Linked DNA regions of Homo sapiens. The protein of the gene in region 1 purifies or fractionates together with the protein of each later gene. This does not show direct contact. Each region holds a gene or a part of one and is shown on either strand. Other genes may lie near its edges. The genes, in order: TRPC1 and MX1.

Region 1 (3,825 bases):
AAGGAGAGGCATGGCCATCACAATGGGCAGACTTTGAGGATGTGGTCTGAGAAGCCTCTGCGGGCTGGCTGGGGTACATACATGTGACCTCTGTGTGCAGCCTGGGCTTCCTCACAGCATGGTGGCTTCAGAGTGGCTTTTTACATGGTAGTTCATGGCTCCAAGAGCAGGTGTTCCAGTGAGCAAGGTGGAAGATGCGTAGCCTTTTAGGACCTACCTTCAGAAGTCACATAGCATCACCTCTGTTAGAATCTACTAGTTAAATCAATCACAAGCCTGTTGAATTGAAGAGTAGGAAATTTTGACTTCCTCCTTCCCCACCTCTTGATGATGGGAAGAAAGCGTGTCCATCTTTCACTGCAGACTTAGAACATTTCTAGTTAAACTTTTTATTCCAAATACATAGTTAACATTACTGCAAATTAAATTGTCATTGTATAGAGGGATAGCAAGGACAGTAATCAGTCCTGAGATTGCTTTGATATTTGGAGGAAAGGTGACACTACTAAATTTGAGATTTACTAAACCTGGTCATTGGTGAGAGGAAAAGCTGTTTCTCTCCCAGGCATTTCACCTTGAGGGACAAATTAAGATTTCCCAAGAACATTGGAATCTGAGCAGAAGAGTAAAGAATGAAGTATTGCCAAAAATAAGTATTTGCATATAACATACACACATCTTCCCATATACTTTAAAGTATCTTTCAATTACTTATAACACCTAATACAGTGCCTACACATCATTTCATTCATGTGGATTCAACATAGTACTTGCTGTGAAGAATATTCAAGTTTTGCTTATTTGGAACTTTGTGAATTTTTTCTTCCAAATATTGTTGATCCATGGTTGGTTTAATCCACAGATGTAGGACACAGAGATACAGAGGGCCAACTCTACAGTATACTAGAAATTTTCTTGAAAGCACAATAAACAACAAAACTCTGTCCAATTCTTTTTTTCACTACAGTGTTAATTCTACAAATTATATTCTGTTTTGGGATAAATCATTTTAAAACAGAAGGTTGACCAAATATTATTGTGGATTACCTGAATAATGTCATTTTATAATAATTTCAAACCTGATCACATGAGTATATATAGAATTATCAGGACCCTTAAGTTATACTTCACAACATGAGCATTATATTGGAAAAATATTGCCTATGAAATTTGTCAACTAAGAAGATTTGTAAACTTTGGTAAATTAGTTTCTGTACCTGAACTAAAATTTTTCTCATATTTGGGAATATTTTTCCTTTCTTCTCACATGAAATTCAGTTTTAATCAGGCTTAAGAGTGTCTTTAATACCTTTTAAGAAATCCGCAGTGCTTTCTTGGAGCAAGAATAGGTCTAATATTTAGCTTTTTATTGTTTTTGCTATCTTGACTTCTTGGCTTCTGGTAACTAAAATCAATAGTTTCTCTAGACTGAAGATGTCCAACATTAGTTAGTGGTATCTTTTTCTATGGATTGTGCATGATAACTTTGAAATTTCATAAATATTATTATGAGTTTTTATATATTAAACATGAAAAAATGGCTAAGTAAGCTAATAATAATAGTTAATACTTATAGAGTGCATGCTATGAACCAGGCGCTATTCTGAGGGCTTTACCTTTAATCTTCACAACTTTATTAGTAGATACTATTATTATTCCCATTTTACAGATGGGGAAGTTGAGGCTTAGAGAAATTTAAAAACTTGTTAAAGGTCATTTACCAAGTAGCAGAGCCCAGATTTGAATCTAGGTAATCTGGCTCCATAGTCTATCCTCTTAACCTCTACATGCTTTTATTGTTAGAAAAAGGGAAAAAACAAAACTATGTTGAATGTATAGAATTGATTTTTAAACTCTTATTCAGTAAACTTTGAATATCAACCAATCAGTATTTAAAGGTTTCCTTTTACTTTTTTTCTTTTTAATGTGTGTGTATGTCCTTTTCAGTTTGTCTCCCAGTCTAACTGCCAGCAGTTCCTGAACACTGTTTGGTTTGGACAGATGTCGGGTTACCGACGCAAGCCCACCTGTAAGAAGATAATGACTGTTTTGACAGTAGGCATCTTTTGGCCAGTTTTGTCACTTTGTTATTTGATAGCTCCCAAATCTCAGTTTGGCAGAATCATTCACACACCTTTTATGAAATTTATCATTCATGGAGCATCATATTTCACATTTCTGCTGTTGCTTAATCTATACTCTCTTGTCTACAATGAGGATAAGAAAAACACAATGGGGCCAGCCCTTGAAAGAATAGACTATCTTCTTATTCTGTGGATTATTGGTAAGTATCAAGTTAGTTTGAAAGGTTTTGTCTTTATTTAGCCCACTGATTCTTTCTTGATTGATGGCATTGTGAATATTGGGTTCAATTTGCAATTTTACACTGTTCACACCACAAGAATTTGAACACTTCCATGATCACTGAAGACTTAACTAACATGTCTGTAAAGATAAATGTTCCTGAACTTGATGATAAGGAAGCATCTCTCTTATTTAATATTTCTTAAATACATGGAATTTTAAAATTATTTATTCTCAGACTCTATGGTTATTCATGATTGTAAAACAGAAAATCAGCTTTAACACATGAATGCTTTTTTGGTGTAAGAATATGAAGTTTTCTTAGGTATTTTGAAACAATCTATTTTATACTGTTGTGCATTTTTAAAGTTAACTATTCTATTTCATTTATAACATTAGTTTTCCTTTTAAGAACCTATGAGCTTTTTGGTTTTTGTTTTGTTTTGTTTTGTTTTGTTTGAGACAGAGTCTCGCTCTGTCGCCCAGGCTGGAGTGCAATGGCACAGTCTTGGCTTACTGCAACCTCCGCCTCCCGGGTTCAAACGATTCTCCTGCCTTAGCCTCCCAGTAGCTGGGATTACAGGTGCGTGCCACCACACCTGGCTAATTTTTGTATTTTTAGTAGAGATGGGGTTTCACTTCATTGGCCAGGCTGGTCTCGAACTCCTGACTTCGTAATCCTCCTGCCTCAGCCTCCCAAAGTGCTGGGATTATAGGCCTGAGCCACCGTGCCCGGCCTAGAACCTATGAACTTTTGCAGATATATCTTGCTTTATCTCTATTTTGGAAACATTGTTTAAATTTAGATTTAAAGGAGTCCCTGGTGACTCATTCCATAAATCATTTCTTTGTAGAGATAGCCAGATCTCTTTAGAAATGATAGTTTTTTAAAAAGTATAAGACATTTTATTCCTGAAAATTATTTTTATAAGTATTACACTGTATAATAAATGTCTTAAATCATCTTCTACAATTTTTACTCGTCTTGCCTTCTGTGTGTCGGGGTGCGTGTGGAGAGTTGAGGTAGAATCACATTATCTGTTTATGGTATTTTAAAGATATTTTCTTTATTTCCCTCTGTATCTTCTACCTTGTTTTTAACCTCAGCACTTCCCATCTGTCCGTCTACTATTTGCTATAGAGTAAAAGGGTAATAAAATTTAGTCTTATCTATGGCACAAAGTACTGAGTGTATTTATCTTTTGATTACTACATTCCTGATTGTTTCAATTATTTAGTACTTTCATAAGTTATTTCACAATGTTCAATTTTAGCTCTTTAGCTATACAAATACTTTTTATATTTTAGAATGTTTATTTGAAAATCAGTTAATTTCAGGTAACTAGATTGTAATTAGAGTTTTGCTTTTAACAGTATTTAATCTATGATGCATTAATGTTTAAAATTAGGTAGATAAAATAATACACATCTAAACTCTAGGTTAAAGAGAATTAAATAATTCCTTCTTGTTAATATTTTTATTTCCTGTAGTTTTGCTCTTATCTAAAATTTAATCTTTTA
Region 2 (3,825 bases), on another chromosome or scaffold:
AGGGAAAATACTGAGTTATCCTTTGAGATCTCTTTTATCCCAATCACAGAAAATTGAATCTGCTCCAAATATGCTTTTATCCATGACTCGCAGAGAGGAGAAGATGCTTTCAGAGTATTCACCATCATGAGATCCGTTTATCCTAAGCTCTGTTTGGGTTTGATTTTCCCTGTCTCTTTTCTAGCCCAGAATGCCATCGCCGGGGAAGGAATGGGAATCAGTCATGAGCTAATCACCCTGGAGATCAGCTCCCGAGATGTCCCGGATCTGACTCTAATAGACCTTCCTGGCATAACCAGAGTGGCTGTGGGCAATCAGCCTGCTGACATTGGGTATAAGGTCAGACTTCAGACCCATTCTGACCTTGGCCGTGGCGTGGGGATGGGGGAGTGGAGGGGTGGGAGGAGAAAGAGGGTACTGTATTAGAGTAACCGTGAGTCCAGAGCTGAGTTTTGGAGTTAGTATTTGGAGGTGTGAGTGGGGAATTTAGAGAGCCCGTTGGTCACAGTCTGTTCTGTCAAGTTGAATGGAAGCTTCTTTGGAGAAAGTGAGGCCAGTGGGCACAGTTGGAAATGTGTTCTGTGTATTTGTTTTATGTTTTATGCAATGACTTGTTTTTGGTTATATACATTTTGCAGCATATCTAAAGTGCTGTGTATTAGGAAGGGGTCTTATGTGGGAAGAGAGCATTAAAAATAAGTATAATGGGCCACACACAGTGGCTCAGTCCTATAATCCCAGCACTTTGGGAGGCTGAGGCAGGAGGATTCCTTGAGCCCAAGAGTTTGACAGAAACCTGAGCAACATAGTGAGACCCCCTTCTCTATAAAAGAAAGGTTAAAAAATTAGCCAGGTATGGTGGCGTGCACCTGTCAGCTACTAGGAGGATTGCTTGAACCAGGGAGGCTGTGATGAGCCGTGATTGTGCCACTGCACTCCAGCCTGGGCAACAGAGCAAGAATCTGTCTCAAAACAAAAAACAAAACAAAACAAGCAAGAAAGAAATAGGTATAATGATATTTTAGTATCAGTGAATCTCACTTTACAGATTAAAGATTTAGGGGTGAAGTGGGGTTTTTTGGCCACCATTTTTCATTGTGACCATCAGATCTGAGGTCTTAGGGGTTAATTATCTGAAACTTCATGGTTTTCCCTGAGCCTATAGCTCTGCTTCTGCCACAGATAATTTATTTTCTCATAATTCCAGCTTGGTACCTCCAGGGTTGTGTTTGTGGGTTCATTTCTCCAAAGTTACTTCTTTTGGGGGAAATACCCCTGGGACTCTTAGGGCCTAAAGCAAGTGCAAGGTCAGGACTTGTCTCACCTCTCACTTGCCTTTGCCATACTCACGAGTCACCTCCTCTCATTTCCTTACAGATCAAGACACTCATCAAGAAGTACATCCAGAGGCAGGAGACAATCAGCCTGGTGGTGGTCCCCAGTAATGTGGACATCGCCACCACAGAGGCTCTCAGCATGGCCCAGGAGGTGGACCCCGAGGGAGACAGGACCATCGGTGAGAGTGGGGGAGCCCCACTGTGCTCAGTGAGAATGGGGGAGCCCGCCTGTGCTCGGTGAGAATGGGGGAGCCCACCTGTGCTCGGTGAGAATGGGGGAGCCCGCCTGTGCTCGGTGAGAATGGGGGAGCCCGCCTGTGCTCGGTGGTCTGCCAGTGGGCAAGCGTCCCTCCAGTCTCCATGGGCTTTGCTCAGTGGGGACCTGCCTCCACTAAGACCTGCTAAGGGAGCAGGTTTGGTGCCCACCAAGGCCAAGTGAAATGAGCTGCTTTTGACTCTCACTGGCTAGGTTGCCTTGTAAGCCTTATCTACTTGCTCAGAAAGGCACAGTGGGCTCGGAAGCAGGTCAAACTCAGGAGGCACATGGTACTCATTAAGAATGCATTTGAGATGGGATGTCCATAACTCAAGGGATAAACAAAACGTGGCGTGTTCTACAGTGGACCCGGGTGAAGGAGCTTGGGGAGAGCCACATGCTGTTCTGGGAGGCATCCCTGCCTTCACGCGGCTTGTCGTGGAGTTCTTTTCTGGAGCGGGGCTCCACTGCCCCCATGGTTCTGCAGGGGCTATGGCCTGTCCTCAAGCAAGGATGGGAGGAAACCCTGGGAGGCCGGGGGCGTGAGCAGTTGTTCGTTCACCTCTGCCTCGTGACTGAGCACGTTCTCTCCCCAAATACATCTGGCTCGCAGGAATCTTGACGAAGCCTGATCTGGTGGACAAAGGAACTGAAGACAAGGTTGTGGACGTGGTGCGGAACCTCGTGTTCCACCTGAAGAAGGGTTACATGATTGTCAAGTGCCGGGGCCAGCAGGAGATCCAGGACCAGCTGAGCCTGTCCGAAGCCCTGCAGAGAGAGAAGATCTTCTTTGAGAACCACCCATATTTCAGGTGCGCTTGCCTGGGTTTCATCATGGATCAGTCCAAGCCCAGGATGTCAGGCCTTCCAGGGGACAGTGGCAGCCGTCCCACAGATGTGTGGAGTGTGTGTGTGTGTGTGTGCGTGTGTGTGTGTGCGCGTGTGTGTGTGACTATGCTTGTTCCCCAACAAGGACTATGGAATTCACCTAGAAGAATAGGAAGGGGATTACAAAATACTGCCAAGAAAAAAAAAACTAAAAACCAATCAAAATAGGGAGAGAACAATGTACAATAATTTACGTAGCATGGTGCTGGAACCATATTTTATAAAAACATAAATAGAAGAGAATAGGAAAAAAGTAGAAAGCCCAGAAATAGACCTAGATATATATATTTGACACATGATAAATGCAGCATTTCAAATCAAATAGTGGACTATATCAGCTTGAGTATCTATTAGTGGTGTTAGGATAATTAATATTTGGGAAAAAACTAAAATACTGCCCTTACTTATCTCATTATACCAAAATAGTTAAAGTTTAAAGTTAAATATTAAGAGGAAGCAATAAGCATCTCAGAAGAAAGGTAGGTGAATAGTTTATAAGATTTTTCTATCCCTCCTACCAAAAGTGACATTTTTTAAAAGGAAAAGACTGACAAATTGGTAAGATTTAAAATGATGAGACTATGTAGAGTTGTAAACATTCTTACATTCAGTTCTCCCAGAAGCCTACAGAGAGCCATTACTCAGAATTCCAGGAATATCAAATGGAAACTTACATCCTGTTCTGCACATTCACAATTGCCAGAAGATGAGATGATTCAGTGTCCATTGATGGATGGATGCAGAAAGCAATGTGGTCTGTACAAAAACATGGAATACTTTCAGCCTTAGAAAGGAAAGACATTCTGACACATGCTACAACATGGATGAAGCTTGGGAACATTCTACTAAGTGAAAGAACCCAGTCGTAAGAGGACGGATACTGTCTGATTCCACTTAGCTGAGGTCCCTGGAGTAGTCAGATTCATAGAGACAGAAAGAATGATGGGCACCAGGGGCTGGGAGAGAGAGAATGGGCAGGTAGTGTTTAATGGGGCCATTGTTTCAGTTTGGGAATATGAAAAGTTCTGAAGACAGACAGTGGTGATGGTTGCATAATAGTGTGAATGTACTTAATGCCACTCAAGTGTACTCTTAAAGATGGTTAAATGGTCAATTTTATATGTAGTTTACCACAATTTAGAAAAATTGACAGAGAAACTGAAGCTTAGGTATGAGTATACTCACAAAAAGGCACAGAAACTCATGCTTCACTGCTGCCTTTATCCTAAAATGTCCTATAAAATGTGGGAAACCCTGTAATAACTCACTCTGTGAGCACAAATTTGGATCGAGTGAGAAGATACTTGACTTCCTTCCTCCAGGCAGCCCATGGTTTAAGTTTTT

Evidence for each region.
Region 2: the proteins of TRPC1 (region 1) and MX1 purify together in Homo sapiens (co-immunoprecipitation; one study listed by IntAct). This does not show direct contact.

What each region holds. Positions count from the first base shown.
Region 1 is NC_000003.12:142,782,757-142,786,581, forward strand, and holds part of TRPC1 (short transient receptor potential channel 1), read left to right. Parts: intron 1-1,947; coding exon 1,948-2,284; intron 2,285-3,825. UniProt on the Homo sapiens protein: Forms a receptor-activated non-selective calcium permeant cation channel. Forms a heteromeric ion channel with TRPC4 or TRPC5 that has reduced calcium permeability compared to the homomeric TRPC4 or TRPC5 channel.
Region 2 is NC_000021.9:41,439,510-41,443,334, forward strand, and holds part of MX1 (interferon-induced GTP-binding protein Mx1), read left to right. Parts: intron 1-184; coding exon 185-339; intron 340-1,377; coding exon 1,378-1,516; intron 1,517-2,206; coding exon 2,207-2,405; intron 2,406-3,825.